2 linked regions of the Homo sapiens genome follow. Each later gene encodes a partner of the first gene's protein in a complex. Each region holds a gene or a part of one and is shown in the gene's direction. Other genes may lie near its edges.

Evidence for each region. The genes of interacting proteins can lie anywhere in the genome.
Region 2: POLR2E (region 1) and ASDURF share a complex: the UniProt entries of both Homo sapiens proteins name them as parts of the PAQosome complex.

The regions. Positions count from the first base shown.
Region 1 is NC_000019.10:1,086,049-1,092,375, reverse strand, and holds the end of POLR2E (DNA-directed RNA polymerases I, II, and III subunit RPABC1), read left to right. Parts: intron 1-468; coding exon 469-584; intron 585-1,387; coding exon 1,388-1,468; intron 1,469-2,230; coding exon 2,231-2,289; intron 2,290-2,410; coding exon of another isoform or gene 2,411-2,413; coding exon 2,414-2,492; intron 2,493-2,824; coding exon 2,825-2,890; 3' UTR 2,891-2,904; intron 2,905-3,655; 3' UTR 3,656-5,802; downstream 5,803-6,327. UniProt on the Homo sapiens protein: DNA-dependent RNA polymerase catalyzes the transcription of DNA into RNA using the four ribonucleoside triphosphates as substrates.
Region 2 is NC_000002.12:189,657,093-189,664,480, forward strand, and holds the start of ASDURF (ASDURF protein), read left to right. Parts: upstream 1-4,366; 5' UTR 4,367-4,428; coding exon 4,429-4,518; intron 4,519-6,808; coding exon 6,809-6,862; intron 6,863-7,388.

The DNA.
Region 1 (6,327 bases):
GTTTAGAACTGTTGACTTCAAGTGATCCACCTGCCTCAGCCTCCCAAAGTGCTAGGATTACAGGTGTGAGCCACCGCACCCGGCCTCAGGTGATGCTTCTTAAAGAGAGCGTCCTGGGGTGTGAGGTCTGCTTGTTGGAGAGGTTGGTGCTGAGTCACCCGCCTCCCCAGAACTGCCCAGGGTGGGAGCCTCTCAGAGTCGAAGGTCTCTGCTTCTCCCTGGTCTCTGGGTGACTGAGGGGTGTCAGCCCCCTGTCCCTGTCTCCGGGTGAATGAGAGGTTTCAGCCCTCTCTTCCCCTGTCCTGGGATCCTGCAACTCAGGCCTCGTTTTGCAAACGCGGAAGCCGAGGCCCGAGCAGGAGAGACACCTGTGTGGAATGGGGCTGGAACCTGGGTGCTCTGGGCTCTGGGTGGGCGAGGGCCACGAGGGCCCAGGCTCGTGCAGGCCAGCACACTCTCTGTCTGCAGAGGAGCCCAAGGTGGGCATCAAGACCATCAAGGTGTACTGCCAGCGCATGCAGGAGGAGAACATCACACGGGCTCTCATCGTGGTGCAGCAGGGCATGACACCCTCCGCCAAGCAGGTGGGCACCCCTGCCCCACCCCGCCAGCCTCTCCCCCTCCCCAGCCTCCTCCCGCAAGCAGTACCCACAGGCGGCCCACGTGCCTTGGGCTTTGGGCCAGGCCAGCCAGGGTGCCCTGGAGGATGTGGCCGGGATGTCCGGCAAGCCCCGACCGCCTCCCTCCCACCGCGTCCATGGGCCCCACCCCAGGCAGCCGCCGTCCTCCCCCAGCTCTCAGGAGGGGCGTCAGGGCGGAGGGCACTGTGCCTCTCGCCAGCTCCTGTGGGCTCCAGCCCTCGGCCTGGTGCAGATTCCAGGAGCCGGAGGTTCTTTATCCTGAGCTGATGTCCAGGGGGACTTGCAGAGGAGGCCCGGCACGGGGTCCTCCAGGGGCCTATCCGTGTTCCCCGTCTGTCTGTCGGACACTCTGGAGCCAGGCTGCTGTGCTGTGACGGGCAGTCAGCAGAGCAGTTTAGTCCCTGGCCCACCAGCTGTGGGGTTCACGCAGCCACACAGAGCAGCACCCCTGTATGGGGAAGAGGTCGCCCTGCCAGCTCTGAGGGCCGCCCCTGGAAGCGTGTGATGGATGGAAACACATCCGAGTTTCCACGGCCACTTCACTGCTGGATGAGGCTCTCGATGAGCAGAGAGGCTGGGGAGGGGCGGGCTGTTGAAGGCTCCTGGGCTGGCGGTGGGGTTTTCTGATTCACGACGTGGGTGTGTTGTTGGGGCACACGAGTAAGCCCCAGGTAGCTTGAGGCAGGAAATGGGGTTGGGGTTGTCTGGGCCCCTCCGGGCCGTGCCTTAGAGCCGCTCTCTTCCAGTCCCTGGTCGACATGGCCCCCAAGTACATCCTGGAGCAGTTTCTGCAGCAGGAGCTGCTCATCAACATCACGGAGCACGAGGTGGGCGCGCGCCGCGGAATCCCGCCTGCGTGGGGCCGGCAGAGATGCAGCGTTTGTGGGTGGCCAGGAAGATGTGGGATCTGGGGCCCAGGGCAGGTGTTCCTATTAGTGCATGGAGGACAGGGTTCTCAAAGGGTGGCCCTGGGCCTGCAGCAGCCGAACCCGGGAGCTTCCTAGAAATGCAGATCCCGGCCGGGCGCGGTGGCTCACACATGTAATCCCAGCACTTTGGGAGGCCGAGGCGGGCGGATCACGAGGTCAGGAGTTCCAGACCATCCTGGCTAACACGGTGAAACCCCGTCTCTACTAAAAATACAAAAAAATTAGCCAGGCGTGGTGGCGAGCGCCTGTAGTCCCAGCTACTCGGGGAGCCGAGATTGTGCCACTGCACTCCAGCCTGGGAGACAGAGCAAGACTCCATCTCAAAAAAAAAAAAAAAAAAAAAAATGCAGATCCCGGGCCCACCCCAGCCTGTAGAATCGGGACTGCTGGGAGTGTGGAGGGACCCTAGTGCTGGGACAGGAGGAGTCCCAGCAGGAGGTGGCTGTGCCCAGCCCGTCTGCCTCAGAAGCCCCAGGAGCTGTGACTCCGTCCCCCGCCTGTGGAGCCAGGGTGGGGTGGGTGGGCTCCCTGAGTGCCGGGGATCGGGGTGGGGTTCAGGGCTCTTGTCCGTCTGAAGGCGCAGGGGCTGTGGTGGCACCTGGGAGCCACGTGGGGTCTCACCAGCCCTTGGTGATGCCTGGTGGCTTCCTCTCTCGGCAGCTAGTCCCTGAGCACGTCGTCATGACCAAGGAGGAGGTGACAGAGCTGCTGGCCCGATAGTATCCTTTCCAGCCCCACCGGCCCCGCCCCTCCCTGTCCCTCGAGACTTCCGCGTTCCCCCCCCACACACACCCCTGCCCCCCCAACGGCCCTGTCTGGCATTTTCCTGACGGTGCTTCGCAGTAAGCTCCGAGAGAACCAGCTGCCCAGGATCCAGGCGGGGGACCCTGTGGCGCGCTACTTTGGGATAAAGCGTGGGCAGGTGAGCCCTGTGGGGAGAAGGGGCCCTGGGGCTGCTCTGAGCTGACCACTCGGAGAAGGGGGCTTCTGTCCCTCCCCGACAGCCCCTCCCCCTTGATCCAGGGCCTGGAGGGGACCTCGAGACCACACCCCCAATATCCCCCTCTTAAAGCCAGGGCCACTGGGCCCAGAGAAGAGCGTGACCCAGGTTCCCAGGGAGCGGGTCCCACAGCCCAGGGTCAGCCATCTCGGACCCCTGCCGGCCATCCCCAGCCCGTGTGCTGCCCGCCTGCTGTCTGGTGACTGCAGTGAGACCCCTCAAGCATTCGCAGCCCCTGCTCTCTGTCTCTGCAGGTGGTGAAGATCATCCGGCCCAGTGAGACGGCTGGCAGGTACATCACCTACCGGCTGGTGCAGTAGCTACCGCCTGACAGGTGAGACGGCCGAGGGACAGGCACTGAGGTGGGGTCAGAGGCAGGGGTGTCGTCCCCTCCGTCGGTGTGCAGGGCTGTTCTTGCTTTGTCCGGCAGCAAGACCCTCCTAGCACCAGCCCAGCTGGGCCACCAGGCGCTCCCAGGACACCCCCAGACCCCCAGACCCCACCCGACCGTAGGCTGCAGCTCTTGGGGCTGTGCGCCTGGACGGGAGAGTCCTGGTACGCGGGGCGTGCGTCTCTCCGCCGCTGACCCACCTTAGAAGCAGGAGACGTTCACCTGCAGGGCAGTTGTGCGGCGGGACTTTCCAGAAGAGGGTTTAGAAACCTGCCCAGAGACCCCAGAGCTGAGAGAGGAGGCACAGCTTCAGGCCAACCCTTCCCTGAGTGGGCACCTTGGGAGGGACTGGCCGGAGTCTCAGGAGCGGGACAGCCTCTGCCCATGGCGAGAGCCTCCCAGCTTCCCCTGGACTCTGGTCATGGCGAGCTGCTGTCCTGCAGGCCGCCCCACTTCACACTCAGCCCAGGGGTGGGGCTTGGCCTGGTCTGACGCTGGCACGGTTCCTTTGAGGTCAGAGCTACTGCCCACGCCTGTGTGACCGCTGGGCACAAGGGAGCCGTCCGGCCTCTGCACTGCGGCCTGGGCCGCCTCCTGCCAGGCCTCCCGCACCCCGTCACGTTCGGTGGGCGTTGTGCTGTCCTGGGCATACTGGATCTGCCCCTGTCGTGTGACCACTCTCCCCCTTTCCTAGCCCCTAGAGGCGGACACACAGCGACCCCCATCCCTGCAGGACAAACGCCCCTGCCCTGCCAGAATCCGGCCCCCACAGCTCTCACGGCTGCTGCTCCTCTGGACTCCCCAAGGCAGGTGGCCTCCACCCACGTTCTCCCGTCCTGGGGTGAGGCTTCCTGTGGCCCAGCCCGCCCCATTCACCTGTGGATTTGTGCGAGATGCAGCCTCAGAAGGAACAAGGCCCCCAGAGGGAGGTCACCTGGGGGCAGCTGGTGCCGGGTCTTCACCCAGACCACGCTGGGTCCCCTCTGTTGGGGGTTTGGGGTCCGGGTCTCCCACCAGCCACTGCTTCCTCCTGGGCCCTCGGCCTTCCACCCCTCGTCTTCCCTCCCTCGGGGGCCCTGATGCGTGGCGGCCCCCGCCCGGCCTCGGCTCTTTACTCCATTCACAGCCATGCACGCGCTCAAGCCACCAGGGTGCGAGATGCCAGCTCTGGAGTTCTCGGTTGTTGTAGGAGGTTGGGTGTTTTCAAATGGTAAAGATGTTTTGAGCAAATAAATTTGCTTGATACAGAAACCAGGCCGACTAACAAGGTTTCCAGCAGGTGGCCTTGCCTCACCCCAAGCACACGAGGTCAGCCTGGCAGGTGTGCCCTCCTCGCGCTGGCTTCAGGGGTCAGTGTCTCCCCAGGCCCTCGCCCTGCCCTCCCACTTCGTGCTCCTGGGTAAGGCGTGAGCGTGTCTGTCTCTTCCCTTCCCGTGAGGGTGTGGAGTTGTTCTCTGGCTTGTGCAGCTGTGGTTTGCGGCCAGTTCCTCTTACAGACGTTTGGGATCTGGCTCTACTTCCCCGTTTGCTTACTGTCTGATTTCAGAAGGCCTCGCCTGCCCAAGTTTAACCTAGCCACGTGGTTCTCTCACAGTAGCTTTATTAAGATGTAATTCACCCTCGGGCGGTCGGTGGTCTGTAACGCGCCCACTGTTCTGTGCAGCAGGGTCCCCAGATCCCCAGGCCGCGGACTGTGTGTGTGATGGGGACAGTGCTTCCCCTTCTCTCCAAATGTACTTTTTTCAAAATTGTCTTGGCCAAAGCAAGCCAGACCCAAAGGGACAAACACTGATGTCACTCCTAGGAGGTCACTAGAGTCGTCAGAGACTGGAAGTAGGATGGGGGTTCCCGGGACTGGGGAGTTGGGTGGGGATGGGGGTTCCCAGGGCTGGGGAGGAGGGAGGGGACAGAGTGTGTCATGTGCACAGTTTTAGTTTGGGAAGATGAGAAAATTCTGGAGGTGGCCGGGCGCGGTGGCTCACGCCTGTAATCCCAGCACTTTGGGAGGCCGAGGTGGGCGGATCACCTGAGGTCGGGAGTTCGAGACCAGCCTGACCAACATGGCAAAATCCCATCACTGCAAAAAATACAAAAATTACCTGGGCGTGGTGGTGCATGCCTGTAATCCCAGCTACTTGGGAGCTAAGGCAGGAGAATCACTTGAACCCAGGAAGTGGAGGATCGCTTGAGCTCAGGAGTTAAAAGACCAGCCCGGGCAACACAGAGAAACCCCCCACCTCTACAAAAAACTTTAAGATTACCTGGGCACAGTGGCTCACACCTGTAATCCCAACACTTTGGGAGGCTGAGGCGGGAGGATCATTTGAGCCCAGGAGGCCGAGGCTGCAGTGAGCTACGATTGTGCTCCTGTACTCCAGCCTGGGCCACAGGGTCACACCCTGTCTCAAAAAAAAAAAAAAATGCAGTTCCACAGGCGCATGGGCCACGTTTCCAGTGCTTGGTGGCCATGTGGGGCTGACGTGCGAAACCTTAGAGCCGGGGGATACGTCCGTCATCGAGAACGTTTTCCTGGACTGCCCTGGGCTGCAGGTGGACGTGACGAGGTCATTCGATGCCTGACCGTCTGCACAGCCTGTGGTGAAGACCACCCGGGCTCCCACCTCGCGGGGCCCCGTGGCGGGGGGTTCCCTTCCTCACACATCCCTCCCCTAGGGGGAGGCCCAGGGCCACGCCACGGGGCTCTCTCTGTCCCCTCCCTGGCCCCTTCTTCTAAGCTTGCAGCTGCCACAGAAAATCTTCTAAGCTTGCAGCTGCCACAGAAAACACCCGATTAAAAACTTTTTATTTCAGCAAAATAAACGTGCCTGTGAAAGAACCACACGGTGGCTTCCGAGAGACCCCACTGTGTACCTGAGCCCCAGGTGGCCACACCTGGTGTTCTGGAAAAGGGAGTCCAGGGCCAGTATTCAGGCCCTGCTGTACTGCACCCTGGAAACTGCACCAAACCCCAGCTCCGCCCCCATCCACGGCTCCCAGAATGGTTTCTGGAGTCCCTGCAACAGACCTGTGAGGAGAGGGCAGGGCAGGGCCTGCCTCCTGCGTCCCCGTGATGACCTGGGGGATGCACTGGGCAGGGACAGCTTCCTCCATCCACACAGCCCTGTGGGCACCAACAAGGCCACTGTGACTTCACACGACAGCAGTGTTCCCCAGCTCAGCTGAGCCGGGGTGCAGGGGACAGCACAGGGCACAGTCCTGTGCCGCAAGGCCCTCGTGCTCCTGGAAGCCTCTGGGAGGAGGCGCCCGCTGGTGGGACGTCGAAGTCCAGGCGCTCTCGGCAGCGACCCCAGGACGGCGCACCTAAGCTATGCCGTGGTGCAGGGGACGTGCTGGAGGGACAGGAGC
Region 2 (7,388 bases), on another chromosome or scaffold:
TGTCTGAGGGTTGGCGATGGGGGAAGGATAACATTAGGATAAATACCTAATGGAGGTGATGGGTTGATGGGTGCAGCAAACCACCATGGCACATGTATACCTATGTAACAAAACTGCACGTTCTGCACATATACCCCAGAACTTAAAGTATAAAAAAAAGAAAAAAGAAAAATAATAGTTTTTATAAACCATTGAACAAAGAAAACTTTAGGCACAGATAAATTCACTGGAAAATTCTATATAATATTAATAGAAGAAATAACATTAATTCTACAAAAACTCTTCCAAAACATAGAAAGGAAGTATTAAAATAATAAATCGGAAGGCCATTACACTGAAGCAGCTCTAGAGCTGAGTGCCTACCTAAACAAACCAAAAGCTAAAAGGTTATATTCTAGGTAAACAGAACTTAGCTTAACCAATCAGAAACCAACAACTAACCTCTAACTAGGGATTTTCCAATGGAATGATCCAAATAAGGCTACTGGTCCACTTTAACCAATCAAATATTTTCTTTGCCTTGCATCCATATTTGAATCTTTGGGAAAGAGGTGGACAGTGGCACTCATATGGAATAGTTCTAGAAGAAGCCAAGATAATTTCGATTAACCTTCTTTATAGCTGTCAGACTATGTGAAGATACAACAGGCATGGGCAGCATATAAAACATCTTTCATTGGTGACATTCACAAACCACACTGACCTCTAGATTGTAAAACAGAACTACCAACAATGAAATTTTCAAATCCAACTGGCAGGAGAGCAGTGGATTGGAAAGAAGACGAATATGCTTAGATGAGGCATGTGAGGCACCTGGGCAGAAAATTTAAAGAGCACTTACTGCAGGACCTGAGAGTCAGTGCATCTTCAAATTTGCACCCTACCACACTCACCACATCCTGTTTCAGCCCTGCACAAGAGCTCCAAAGTGAAGTTGGCTGCAAGCGTCAGGGAGGCCTGATGTCCGCATTCCACAGCTTTGAAGCAAAGCTTGAGAACCAGCCTTATCTCAAGTAAAAAGGATTTACTAATCTCTAGACCAGTACTTGGAAACTCTGCCATTTCCCTTGAGAGACCAAGACCAGCCTGATGTGCTTTGTTACTAGGGCGACAAAGCATTCTCCCTGCGTTCTCCCTGCAAAGAGTTTATGGTAAGGATCCAGTAGTTCCTTTCCCAGATCCTAGAGCCTTGTGGAAAACATCAGTCCAATATCTCAGGCCCTGTCACCTTCTGGCAGAATTATTGATATAAATCACCTATTTAGACTGTGATATTACCTCTCCTTTGACTTCACCCCCTTGGTCCTACAGCCTACCTTACTTCCCCCTCTCCAACCCCCTCCCCCCACCGGCAATTACCAGCACTGTCTACTTGCTGAGATTTCCCTTTGGTCTGCTAGTCTACGCCTCTTAGAAGAGTCTGTAGTTGAGTCTGTCTCCTTTCAAATGACTTCCAGTCTGTCCTACCCATCAGAGTTAACAGAACCATCCAATCACTGTGACAACCAACAGTACCTCCAAACATTTTTTCAAGCATCAGCTAGGGAAACCCCTAGCTCTGTTGAGAATCACTGGAAGAGAAGACATAGTTTCCAGTTGTATGGTGGGCTGCAGATGGGCAGTCCTGAGCCAGTTAGGCATGACACATGGTACTAGCTAACCCCAAAGCTGACTTCAAGCAATGCAGAAGTTAGAGCAGCTGAAGGAGGAAATAGAAGCAAATAGATAAATATTTTTTAAATAAGACAAAGTGTGAAAGCACTTTTAAGACAGTTTAGCACCATACTAAAATTATTATCACCACTTTGTTTAGTACTATTTTGTTTAGTACTATGTTGTCTTGGGCAGCCCTTGTGAATAAACAAAAACATCAGAACCTGGCAGAGCCGTAAGCAACAGCCCACTTCCCAAAACGGGGTGAACAGCTGTAGACCAATCAGCGGTGTTGGGTGTTTCCGGCTACTCGATGTGGACATGATTGTGAGTCAGAACCAATTCAAACTTTAACCAGAGCTCCCACTCTGCCAGACACTATAATAGAAGGTGGGGTACAAAGAAGACCAATAGGCTAGGATGCTCAGTCTCATCAGCTTTACAGATAAGCCTCACTATTACCTCTAAACAAAGTGGAAGCCAGTCCTGGCAGCGCACACCTATAACCCCAGCATTTTGGAAGGCTGAGGCGGGCAGATAGCTGGAAGCCAGGACTTTGAGACCAGCCTGGCCAACATACTGAAACCCCATCTCTACTAAAAATACAAAAATCAGCCGGGCATGGTGGCACACACTTGTAATCCCAGGTACTTGGGAAGCTGAGGCAGGAGAATAGCTTGAATCCAGAAGGCAGAGGTTGCAGTGAGCAGAGATCGCACCACTGCACTCCAGCCAGGGCAACAGAGAAAGACTGTGTCTCAAAATAACAACAACAACAAAGTGAAGTGATACTTCACTTTGGAGCTCTCTTTTTCCTAAACTTGGATTCTTAAAATGTTTCTAAGCTAGCAGTTTTGTAAGAACTTTTTTCCTTAAAAATCTGGCACATTTAAAGTATTGGAAATTCTGGGCTTTTAAAAATATTGGGATTATACCAGTGCTTATTTTTCTCTATAAACTAGTCAGAACAGAGGCCCTTTAATTAGAGATACTATAGTGGGATTTATTAATACACTCCAGAAGTAGGGAAATATTTCATATTTACAAAGGGAGACATAAAGCCTGTTCTAAGTTACAGACACACAGACACATAAAGAGGTTATTGCTTCTGTCTTACAACTTCAATCTCAGGTCAAAAGTAAACACAAAACCACAAAAATTCACCAGTTCTTCTGCTTGAGCGGCCTTTATGTTAAAACAAACAAACAAAACCTTACTAGCCCACATCTCAAATAGCTGTCCTCCTTCCCTCTCAGTGGACACAAAAGTAATTAATTAATTTGAGCTCACAAACAATAAACAAAAAGACTTACAAACTCGCTTCTCTGTCACCTCTCTTATTTATTTATTTGAACCCCTGGCCTCAAGTAATCCTCCCACCTCAGCCCCGAGTGGTTGCGATTACAGGTTTGAGCCACTGCACCTATCTACCTCTCTACCAATGAGACTAGACGTCCATCATCCAACAGATACCACCAAATGGTTAGACCACAAAACCAAACTCCCAATCATTGCTGCTATCAATGTATCAGTAATGTATAAGTTATACCTGAATAACTTATCAGGAATGTACAAATCAGAAATGAAAACACAATCTTTAAAAATCAATTATAAAGGAAAAATATATAACCACTTGGGTTTTCTGTAAGAGCAAATAAAAAACATGCCTGGCCTTAAACAACCCATGATGTATACATTTCTTTCGCCAGATAGTTTGATTCATCACATAAATCCAGTTGGGCATCTCTGTGGAAACTTAAGATTTCCAATAATATAGTATAATTATCAAAAACCTAAAATCATGTCTCTAATGTGAACATAAAATATATACATGTCAAACTTTTATTCAACTCATTGGTTAGTGAGGGAACCGATGACTTTAAAACCAATACAGAATATTAGAGAAGCTAGGCATATGTTAATAAAGAAATGTTAGGACAGAATGCAGGGTTAGATACAAAACTGACTAATGTGTTGCAGAACAATAAATCATAACCTGTGTTGGTATCTGGTACAACAAAAAATTATTTGCATCTCTACCAAACCAAAATCTCTACCAAAGTTAACCTTTGCCCCTACAGAATTGTAAAACAGCCCAGTCAATATAATAAAGTCAAGTCCAGAGCAGCACTGAAAGAGCATCCAGTAAATAAATCTCTTTTGCCTATTTCCAAGTTTTAGTCATTTTTTCCACAGAAATGAGATATTGCAAATATTGCACGGGACATAGATGCACTAAAAAACTATTAATTCATCTGAAGTTCATACTGTATTTTATCCGGCAACCCTAACCACGAGTTAACCAAAACTTTACCAAGTCTGTACAGTTCTTTTGCCAACACGGTATCTCTTAAATCTGTTCCTTAGCTTCATCTTTCCCTAGATAATAAATATCATATTAAGCGCTGTTTCTATTGCACGACTATTCTTCATATTTACCACTGGAGGGCGCACAGAACTCGTAGTATACTAGATAAGAGGTCATGAAGAAACCACCTGAGCGTTTCTGCATCTCAACCACAAGAGGCCAGTACAGGAACCTCAGATTTTGCAACCAGACTGTTTACTCGCTCCCTAAGCAGCCATGCGCAGGCGCGAAACTCCTCCCCAGGCCAGACCCGGCCTGCGCATGCGTTCAAGTGAGCGCGCAGACGCTATTGGTAAGACTCGCGGGAAAAGAAAGGGTGAGCGCGGCTGGAAGCGCGCATGCGCTGTGGCTAATGCCGTAGGCTCCTTCAGGGCTGAGCCATCCCGCGTGTCTTGCGCTCGGTGGAAATGCCCAGCCGAGGGACGCGACCAGAGGACAGCTCTGTGCTGATCCCCACCGACAATTCGACCCCACACAAGGAGGATCTAAGCAGCAAGGTGAGTGTGAGACGCGACGAAAAGGCTCCTGGACTCGGGACCGGGCGCCACTGGACCCTGAAGGTGGTCCGCAGCGGGCAGCGTGGGGCCTGCCTGGGCCTCGGCTTTGCCCTGCTACTTTGCTCTTTTTATTCATAGCACTTGACAGCCACAGTTAGTCCTTTTATTTTCTGAAAACAGTTGCGAAAAGGGAGATCTTGAAATTTGTCCCGAGACTGGACCCAGGTGACAGTGGGGCGGAGTTTTGGTTGGGTGTTTTCCTCCCTAGTCTTTTTAAACTTTTGGAAATACCGCCCACCCCAAATCTGTTCCATCAAAGATATTCTCCATCCAGTTAACCATGCCAGCAACCCGGGGTCCATCCTTGACCCCCATCATGGAAGCCTATCAGTTCTACCTTTGAAGCTCATTTCAAATATGTCCCTTTATCACCGTGAACACTCTTACCACCCCAAATAAGCCACCGTCATCTGCTATCGGGACCCCTGCCCCCGGCAAGGCCTTCCTAAGCGGTCTCTCCTCATCCACCTGTTAGCTGCTGCTTCTCCGTTAACCAGAGCAATGGTCCTAAAACACGCATTGGGTTGTCACTCATACCAAACTGGGGGAGAGAGGAAGCCAATATAATATAAGCCTTAACTGCCATAAACAAACAACCTTTAAAGATAAATGGGGGTGGCGAGGGTTATAGCCCTTCAGGTATTACATGTCCTAGATTCTACTTTGGTTCTGTCCCAAACTTACAATGACATCTTGGGCAAGTCTCTTTAATCTTTCTGTATCAGTTACCTTCTTTGAAGTAAAGTGAAATGTACACCTGTCATTCCTAAAATGGGAAAGCCCTGTATAAATGTTAAGTCTCAAAGAATGTTTACAAATTTGGCCTTGGAATTCAACCTCATTACTACAGCTCTGCCAACGGGGGAGACAGAAAGGTGCACATTCATGGGGATTGGGGGTGAATTTTCAAAAGACACACAGCCCATTCTGATTACCACCATAGCAAGCCACTTACGCATACTGGTGGTTACAGATCCCTGAGGTGTGTGTGAGGTAGCACAAATATGATAAAAGCTGCTTTTAGAGGCTCTTGTGATACTATGTAATCAGTCATGTTCACAAAATAAATAGAGTTAAAAAGAAACTTAGTTTTCACTTAGTTGAGCCCTCCCCTACAAATAAATGAAGCCCAGGCCAGCATGGTGGCCCAGGCCTGTAGTCCCAGCTACTCGGAGGCTAAGGTGTGAGAATCGCCTGAGCCCGGGAAGATCAAAGCTGCAGTGAGCCGTGATCGCACCACTGCACTCCAGCCTGGGTAACAGAGCAAGACCCTGTTTCAAAAAAAAAAAAAAAAAAAAAGCCCAGTTCAACAGTGCCAGCTCTATGCTAGTCATTGAGATAAAAAGAGGGAAAAATACCAAGATGGAACATGATAGGTCTTACTGTCCCCAAATAGGGCATTGCTTGATTTGAATGTTTGACTGCAGCACTTAGTACATAAAATCATGAAAATATTGAAAAAAGTAACCCACCCCTCATTCAATTTGCTTTTTTTTAAATCTAAATCACAACTTAATTTTCAATCTAAATCACAACTTAATTCCTTTTGGTGTATATCATATATATATATTTTTTAAATTATTTATTTATTTATTTTTTTGAGACGGAGTTTCACTCTTGTTGCCCAGGCTAGAGTGCAGTGGTGCAATCTTGGCTCACTGCAGCCTCCGCCTCCCGGGTTCAAGCAGTTCTCCTGCCTCAGCCTCCCGAATAGCTGGGATTACAGGCATGTGCCACTACGCTTGGCTAATTTTGTATTTTTAGTAGAGATGGGGTGTCTGCATGTTGGTCAGGCTGGTCTCGAACTCCCGACTTCAGGTGATCCGCCCGCCTTGGCCTCCCGAAGTGCTGGGATTACAGGCATGAGCCACCGCACCCGGCCTGGTGTATATCATATATTTTTAACAAAAGGTATAAACCTTGTTTAGTAACTGTAGTCCTTGGCATGATTGCTGGTTATGAACACGAAAATCCCTGTCTGGTCTTAATGGGTTACCTAACATTTTGCAAGTCTAATCACTGTTTTTTCTCCTCCAGCTTTTCCTGAACTGTACCCCCACACAGAGACTCCTGTTGAAAATGATCTGTATATTCACAAACTGCCCGTTTGGAAAACCAGTACATCATAGCCCCTTATCCCATCTCTAATTTTAAAACAACCCCTTAAGGGATTTTCATTGAGCATACTTTGAAAACATCTGACTTAAGGAGTTTTTCTTTATTTCAATAGATTAAAGAACAAAAAATTGTGGTGGATGAACTTTCTAACCTTAAGAAGAATAGGGTGAGTTATTATAGGAATTCTGAATAATATGTGGGAGGTTTATTTATGTTAACTATATATTAAAGTTATAAGAAGTATATATAAGATTTAATCATACTTTAATAAAATGTATAGTATTTCAGCATCTTTTAAAATTGCAAGTGTCTAGATTCTTTTTTTAAATGGATAGATCTCATAGCTGAAGATGTCTTTTTTCTATCATATGCCATTCACATTGCCTTTGCAACAAATGATACTAGTTGTATTTTGGTATCTTGGAGCTATAATCACTAATGATGTTTTATACCTGAATTTGATGTTTTCTTTTGATATAAACGAACTTTATATTGAGATGAGAAGAAACTTTTCTTTTAAATGAATGTGGATAATTATTGAACAAAAAAGGATACATTGCTTCCCCTCCCTCCAAAAAATTTTTACATAGATTTTCCTAAATGTGTAACATGGTTATTTAATGCCATTTCCATTAATATGTTACAAACAAGTAAGCTACTGCTTTGTGTATGGTTATAGTGTCAAATTGCAT